2 linked regions of the Homo sapiens genome follow. The protein of the gene in region 1 purifies or fractionates together with the protein of each later gene. This does not show direct contact. Each region holds a gene or a part of one and is shown on either strand. Other genes may lie near its edges.

What was found. The genes of interacting proteins can lie anywhere in the genome.
Region 2: the proteins of ABCF1 (region 1) and MAP2 fractionate together in Homo sapiens (co-fractionation; one large-scale study listed by BioGRID). This does not show direct contact.

The regions. Positions count from the first base shown.
Region 1 is NC_000006.12:30,588,442-30,592,022, forward strand, and holds the end of ABCF1 (ATP-binding cassette sub-family F member 1), read left to right. Parts: intron 1-1,246; coding exon 1,247-1,279; intron 1,280-1,364; coding exon 1,365-1,533; intron 1,534-1,707; coding exon 1,708-1,772; intron 1,773-1,864; coding exon 1,865-1,937; intron 1,938-2,093; coding exon 2,094-2,260; 3' UTR 2,261-3,081; downstream 3,082-3,581. UniProt on the Homo sapiens protein: Isoform 2 is required for efficient Cap- and IRES-mediated mRNA translation initiation. Isoform 2 is not involved in the ribosome biogenesis.
Region 2 is NC_000002.12:209,728,047-209,731,329, forward strand, and holds part of MAP2 (microtubule-associated protein 2), read left to right. Parts: intron 1-1,803; coding exon 1,804-1,916; intron 1,917-2,135; coding exon 2,136-2,351; 3' UTR 2,352-3,283. UniProt on the Homo sapiens protein: The exact function of MAP2 is unknown but MAPs may stabilize the microtubules against depolymerization. They also seem to have a stiffening effect on microtubules.

The sequences.
Region 1 (3,581 bases):
ACCTCCGTCTCCTGGGTTCACGCGATTCTCCTGCCTTAGCCTCCCGAGTAGCTGGGACAACAGGCGCGTGCTACCACGCCCAGCTAATTTTTTGTATTTTTAGTAGAGATGGTTTCACCGTGTTAGCCAGGATGGTCTTGATCTCCTGACCTCATGATCTGCCTGCGTCGGCCTCCCAGAGTGCTGGGATTACAGGTGTGAGCCACCACGCCCGGCAAACTCTACCATTTTATTTGAACTTTTGTAATATATTGCCATCTAGTGTGTTAGAAAGTTTGTAGCCATTTCTGCTCTCTCTAGCAGTGTTGAGAGGCCATTTTCTCATATCCAGAGATTAGATCTTTAGAAAGGTATTATTAGATTCTCCCCAAAACACTAAACTTGCCACATGAGGCCCTTACGATGTACCATTCGTGAGTCTCGCTGTATGGAGAGCAGGTGTTCTTTGGCTGTGGTTAGTCCCTCCTGCTTGTCCCTCTTGTCCTCCATTTTGCTTAACTCCCCTTTTGTCCCTTAACTCTTTTACTTTGCTCACCATGCCTTTGTCATATTAGGGGAACATCCCTGTTCCTTTTCTTTTTTGAGACAAAGTCTTCCCCTGTCCCCGAGGGTGGAGTGCAGTGGTGCGATCTCAGCAACTTCCACCTCCTGGGTTAAAACCATTCTTGTGCCTCAGCCTCCTGAGTAGCTGGGATTATAGGCATGTCCCACTATGCCCAGCTAATTATTGTATTTTTAGTAGAGACAGGGTTTCACAATGTTGGCCAGCCTGGTCTCAAACTCCTGACCTTAAGTGCCTCCTGACCTGCCTTCCTTGGCCTCCCAAAGTGCTGAGATTACAGGCATGAGCCACCGTGCCCAGCCCCTATTCCTTTTCTTATGCATACTTGTCCCTGGCCCATTTCTGGTGTTTGTCTCTCCTTCAGAAAAGTTGGTGTATGGACGAGGTCAGGAGATCGAGACCATCCTGGCTAACATGGTGAAATCCCGTCTCTACTAAAAATACAAAAAATTAGCCGGGTGTGGTGGCAGGCACCTGTATTCCCAGCTACTGGGGAGGCTGAGGCAGGAGAATGGCGTGAACCCGGAAGGTGGAGGTTGCAGTGAGCCGAGATCGCGCCACTGCACTCCAGCCTGGGGGACAGAGCGAGACTCCGTCTCAAAAAAAAAAAAAAAAAGTTGATGTATGGAGCTGCAGCACCTTTTTCCCTTGCCCTCCTCTTAACTACTTTGTCTTCCCTTGCAGACCCATGGGGAAATGAGAAAGAACCACCGGCTGGTAAGTTGGCATTGGGATTTAGGGAATGATAATCTGATGGAGGAAGTGTGACTTTAACCGACCACCTCCCTCTCTTCTCGGGCAGAAAATTGGCTTCTTCAACCAGCAGTATGCAGAGCAGCTGCGCATGGAGGAGACGCCCACTGAGTACCTGCAGCGGGGCTTCAACCTGCCCTACCAGGATGCCCGCAAGTGCCTGGGCCGCTTCGGCCTGGAGAGTCACGCCCACACCATCCAGATCTGCAAACTCTCTGGTACCACTTCAGGGGCCAGGGAGGGTGCCCTTCACCTTATCATTCATGTCTACAAACTGTACCTAGAGGAACCGAGAATGAGGGAGCCTCAGCTCACAAACTGGCACATCTTGAGGGTTTGCCTTCAGAATGTGAGGTGCTAGGTGTGACAGCCCTCCCCTTCCTTTGCTACAGGTGGTCAGAAGGCGCGAGTTGTGTTTGCTGAGCTGGCCTGTCGGGAACCTGATGTCCTCATCTTGGTGAGTGAGCTGGGCTGTGGGAAAAGGGATAAGGGTAACAGTAATGGAAGACGGGAGTTGCAGTGCTCAGTCATGGAATTCCTCCTATGTAGGACGAGCCAACCAATAACCTGGACATAGAGTCTATTGATGCTCTAGGGGAGGCCATCAATGAATACAAGGGTGGTAAGTCAGCTGAGAGTGTGCCCTCATCCCTGCTCCATGGGGACCAAGCTGTAGTGTCCTTCACTACAGAAGGGCCTAGGACTCCCTTATTTCATGTTCTGATTCCCCTCTTTCTCCTTTCTTCCTGCCCTCTGTTGTTGCTATCTTTCTTCAAAGCTGTGATCGTTGTCAGCCATGATGCCCGACTCATCACAGAAACCAATTGCCAGCTGTGGGTGGTGGAGGAGCAGAGTGTTAGCCAAATCGATGGTGACTTTGAAGACTACAAGCGGGAGGTGTTGGAGGCCCTGGGTGAAGTCATGGTCAGCCGGCCCCGAGAGTGAGCTTTCCTTCCCAGAAGTCTCCCGAGAGACATATTTGTGTGGCCTAGAAGTCCTCTGTGGTCTCCCCTCCTCTGAAGACTGCCTCTGGCCTGCAGCTGACCTGGCAACCATTCAGGCACATGAAGGTGGAGTGTGACCTTGATGTGACCGGGATCCCACTCTGATTGCATCCATTTCTCTGAAAGACTTGTTTGTTCTGCTTCTCTTCATATAACTGAGCTGGCCTTATCCTTGGCATCCCCCTAAACAAACAAGAGGTGACCACCTTATTGTGAGGTTCCATCCAGCCAAGTTTATGTGGCCTATTGTCTCAGGACTCTCATCACTCAGAAGCCTGCCTCTGATTTACCCTACAGCTTCAGGCCCAGCTGCCCCCCAGTCTTTGGGTGGTGCTGTTCTTTTCTGGTGGATTTAATGCTGACTCACTGGTACAAACAGCTGTTGAAGCTCAGAGCTGGAGGTGAGCTTCTGAGGCCTTTGCCATTATCCAGCCCAAGATTTGGTGCCTGCAGCCTCTTGTCTGGTTGAGGACTTGGGGCAGGAAAGGAATGCTGCTGAACTTGAATTTCCCTTTACAAGGGGAAGAAATAAAGGAAAGGAGTTGCTGCCGACCTGTCACTGTTTGGAGATTGATGGGAGTTGGAACTGTTCTCAGTCTTGATTTGCTTTATTCAGTTTTCTAGCAGCTTTTAATAGTCCCCTCTTCCCCACTAAATGGATCTTGTTTGCAGTCTTGCTGACAGTGTTTGCTGTTTAAGGATCATAGGATTCCTTTCCCCCAACCCTTCACGCAAGGAAAAAGCAAAGTGATTCATACCTTCTATCTTGGAACATGGGTCTCTTTCCTTTTTTTTTTTTTTTTTTTTTTTGACAGAATCTTGCCCTTTCACTCAGGCTGGAGTGCAGTGGCATGATCTTGGCTCACTGCAGCCTCCACCTCCTGGGTTCAAGCAATTTTCCTGCCTCAGCCTCCCGAGTAGCTGGGATTACAGGCACACACCACCAGGCCCAGCTAATTTTAGTGTTTTTAATAGAGACAGGGTTTTACCATGTTGGTCAGGCTGGTCTCGAACTCTTGACCTCAAGTAATTCACCTACCTTGACTTCCTAAAGTGCTGGGATTATAGGGATGAGCCACTGTGCCCAACTTCTTTTTTTTTCTCTTTTCTGAGACAGGGTCTTGCTGTGTTGCCCAGGCTAGAGTGCACTGTACCCTCAACCTCCTGGGCTCAAGCAATCCTTCCACCTCAGCCTCCTGAGTAGCTGGGACTACAGGCATGTGCCGCCACACTCAACTAATTTTTTTTTTTTTAATTTTTAG
Region 2 (3,283 bases), on another chromosome or scaffold:
TCACCTGGGCCCAGGAAGTCAAGGTTGCAGTGAGCTATGATCATGTCACTTCACTCCATCCTGGGCAACAGAGCAGACCTTGTCTCCAAAAATAAAAAGGACATTTTAGCAAAAATTTAACACGATTATATTGACACAACATATAATCAGAAAAGTAAATGATTTCTATCAGAGGCTACCAAAAATACAAAAATAAGATCACAAAGAAGTTGTTCTTATCTAGTTGAAAGTCCAGTATCCTCTAACCTCTAACCAAGATAAGTCTGTTTTTATGAATCATTGCAAATCATGTTCATCTCATCACAATCAATAAGTGAGACCCATATGGCCAGGTAAAATGTGGGAAGAATAACACTCTATAAAATGAGGCATATTTTCAGGGAAGGATAACTACATCTCTAAGCATGAGTTAAATAACATCATACAGTTTCTAAGCCTTAAAAGAAGAACGAATGGATGTTTCTCCAAAATGTAATCTAATTATGTAATATAATTTCAAGAGGCCCCTGGCCAGGCAGTTGGGTATTAACATAGATGTCTAGATATTGCATGAGAAAAATACCTCATGGCTTAAGAGACCGTGAAGCCTTAACAAACCTTCCTCTTTCGTCTACAGAGATACATGAGCAACAAGAATCCAAAATTGCAAAATCTCTTTCATATTTCCATACGGTCCATCAGGCATTTTTTCAAAATCAAACTCCCAAGCAAGATGCACTTTATGTACTCAACATGTTTATTGGAGCAGCTTTGAAATATGTAGTCTGTAAGATACATCACAATCAACAAGTGAGACCTACGTTACCGCTTCTTTCCAGAAGAACGCATGTGCTCAAAACCAAGTTGCTGTTAAAGTGAAAGCAAATCTCTTAGGTGGTGATGAGCAAATAAGGAGTCCAATTTCACTTTTTATCTAGATCAAATACATCAGCAGACACTCAGAAATGGTCAAGGACAGGCTCAAGGACAACGAGTAACTTGCCCAGTGTAGAAGAACTTTCCATATTTGAGAGCTTGAGAAAGACGTGTAGAGATGGGGAAGACTACACTGAAGAGTGCAGCATGGCACTGTTATAATCAGCAGATCAGAGTTCTAGACTGGTTAGCATTAGGGAAAATGGCATGGTCAAAACTCTGTCTCAATATTATCAGATCAAGGTCAGCGTCATATTGGTCCTATGGCATCCATACAAGAAAGAGATGATGATCTGTCACTCCATATATGAAACGGGAGGCTTTTAAAGCTTACTAGTCATAAACAACTTACCTCCCGACTCATTTCATCAGTGAAGCTTTCAATGTTGAACATTCATAAATGAATATATTGCCCACATGTGCACCACTTCCAGCCTAAATCTTCTTTGGATAAGTAACCTGTTACCATGAATATAAAGAAGAGTTTCATTTAAATTTAATTTGGTCCCTTAGAAATAAGAGACTAAATGTTCCAACTTTTAGAAAGGATTCAAATAAGATATTTTCATTTTGCTAATTTTTAGAGTTCTTGTTATACCAAAAAGAAAAGCCCCTCTGATTTCTTAGGTTAGACATGGGTAAAGGAGAAAGGTATTAATACGTGAAGCAATCCATATAATAGTATAAGAAGGGTGTTATGGTCTTGCATCATATGAGGAAATGATATGGGCTAGAAATTCTAAAAGACTCTTTTTACATATATGGTTGGAGGGATGGTAAAGTTAATAAATTTGTGGTTTGCCGTAGTCTATCTACTGCAGTCATTTTTGGGAAATAGTTACCACGAATGCAAGATATAGTTAAATCAAGGTATTTCTTCCCTCATAGGTGGCGGACGTGTGAAAATTGAGAGTGTAAAACTAGATTTCAAAGAAAAGGCCCAAGCTAAAGTTGGTTCTCTTGATAATGCTCATCATGTACCTGGAGGTGGTAATGTCAAGGTAAGAAACAAGGTTATGAGCCAATCTTGTCTTTTTAAAAAAAATTCTTCTGAAATACTCTTCATCAAAATAGGTCCCAGATTGTAGACCTGGACAAATAAGAAGTGGGGATAACAGAGGTGAATAGAAGTCATTAATGTCAGCCCTGGGAGATGGAGAAAGAGGTAGGGGCCAGTTAAGATGCATGAGTTAACGAGGACTGATGCTTGTCTTAAACAGATTGACAGCCAAAAGTTGAACTTCAGAGAGCATGCTAAAGCCCGTGTGGACCATGGGGCTGAGATCATTACACAGTCCCCAGGCAGATCCAGCGTGGCATCACCCCGACGACTCAGCAATGTCTCCTCGTCTGGAAGCATCAACCTGCTCGAATCTCCTCAGCTTGCCACTTTGGCTGAGGATGTCACTGCTGCACTCGCTAAGCAGGGCTTGTGAATATTTCTCATTTAGCATTGAAATAATAATATTTAGGCATGAGCTCTTGGCAGGAGTGGGCTCTGAGCAGTTGTTATATTCATTCTTTATAAACCATAAAATAAATAATCTCATCCCCAAACTGTAGTAATTGTTACAATTTTCTATTTAAAAAATGAATAGTACATGCAGAAATTGACCTGATTTCCATTTGCAACAGGAAGACACTGGCTTTACATGGGTTCAATTGGACAATTATTTTTGCTCTGCTCTGTTTTGCATGGAGTATTATTATTTTAAAAATTGCATTTTTACCTTTCATGTGCCTGAAGGCTATCCACTACATTCTGAAGGCCTTGTTAAAATCCAAGCTGCTCATTTCACTATTCTGTTTCTGAGTGAGAAGATAAAAACTGCCCATTGTAACTTATTTCAGGTTAAATTAAACCAAGGAGTCTGATTGCAGGAAGGGAAGAGCATGTAAGAAATAAGTTTTTTTAAAGTGTTATTTTGTATAAATGGGAAGAAAGATTCAATTAAGTTATTAACATTTGGGACCTGGATAATTATATCAGAGTATGTCAGTCCAATAAATTATTTAACTAATTAAAAAATAGTTGCAAAGCATTTGAGCTGTGGTTGAGGAAGTGGTGTAAAAGTGCATCCATTAGGAATGATGCACTTTCATTAGGATGGACTCGTGTCTGATTAGAATGTCAGTTGATCAGCTAGATTTGTGTCCACACTACCAGTTTCACACCCCCTTTCCATCTGTTTGATACAGTATTATAGATATAAATATATATATATTTCTCTGTGGCCATTTGTGATACTTCCTCATATACTTGAATATTATACTTCTTTATTCACAGTATCTGTGTCTCCTGCACCCTTTGGTGTTGCAATTTTAGATATGTGAAAGTAGATGTTAGCAGGGTTCTCTCCCTATTTAA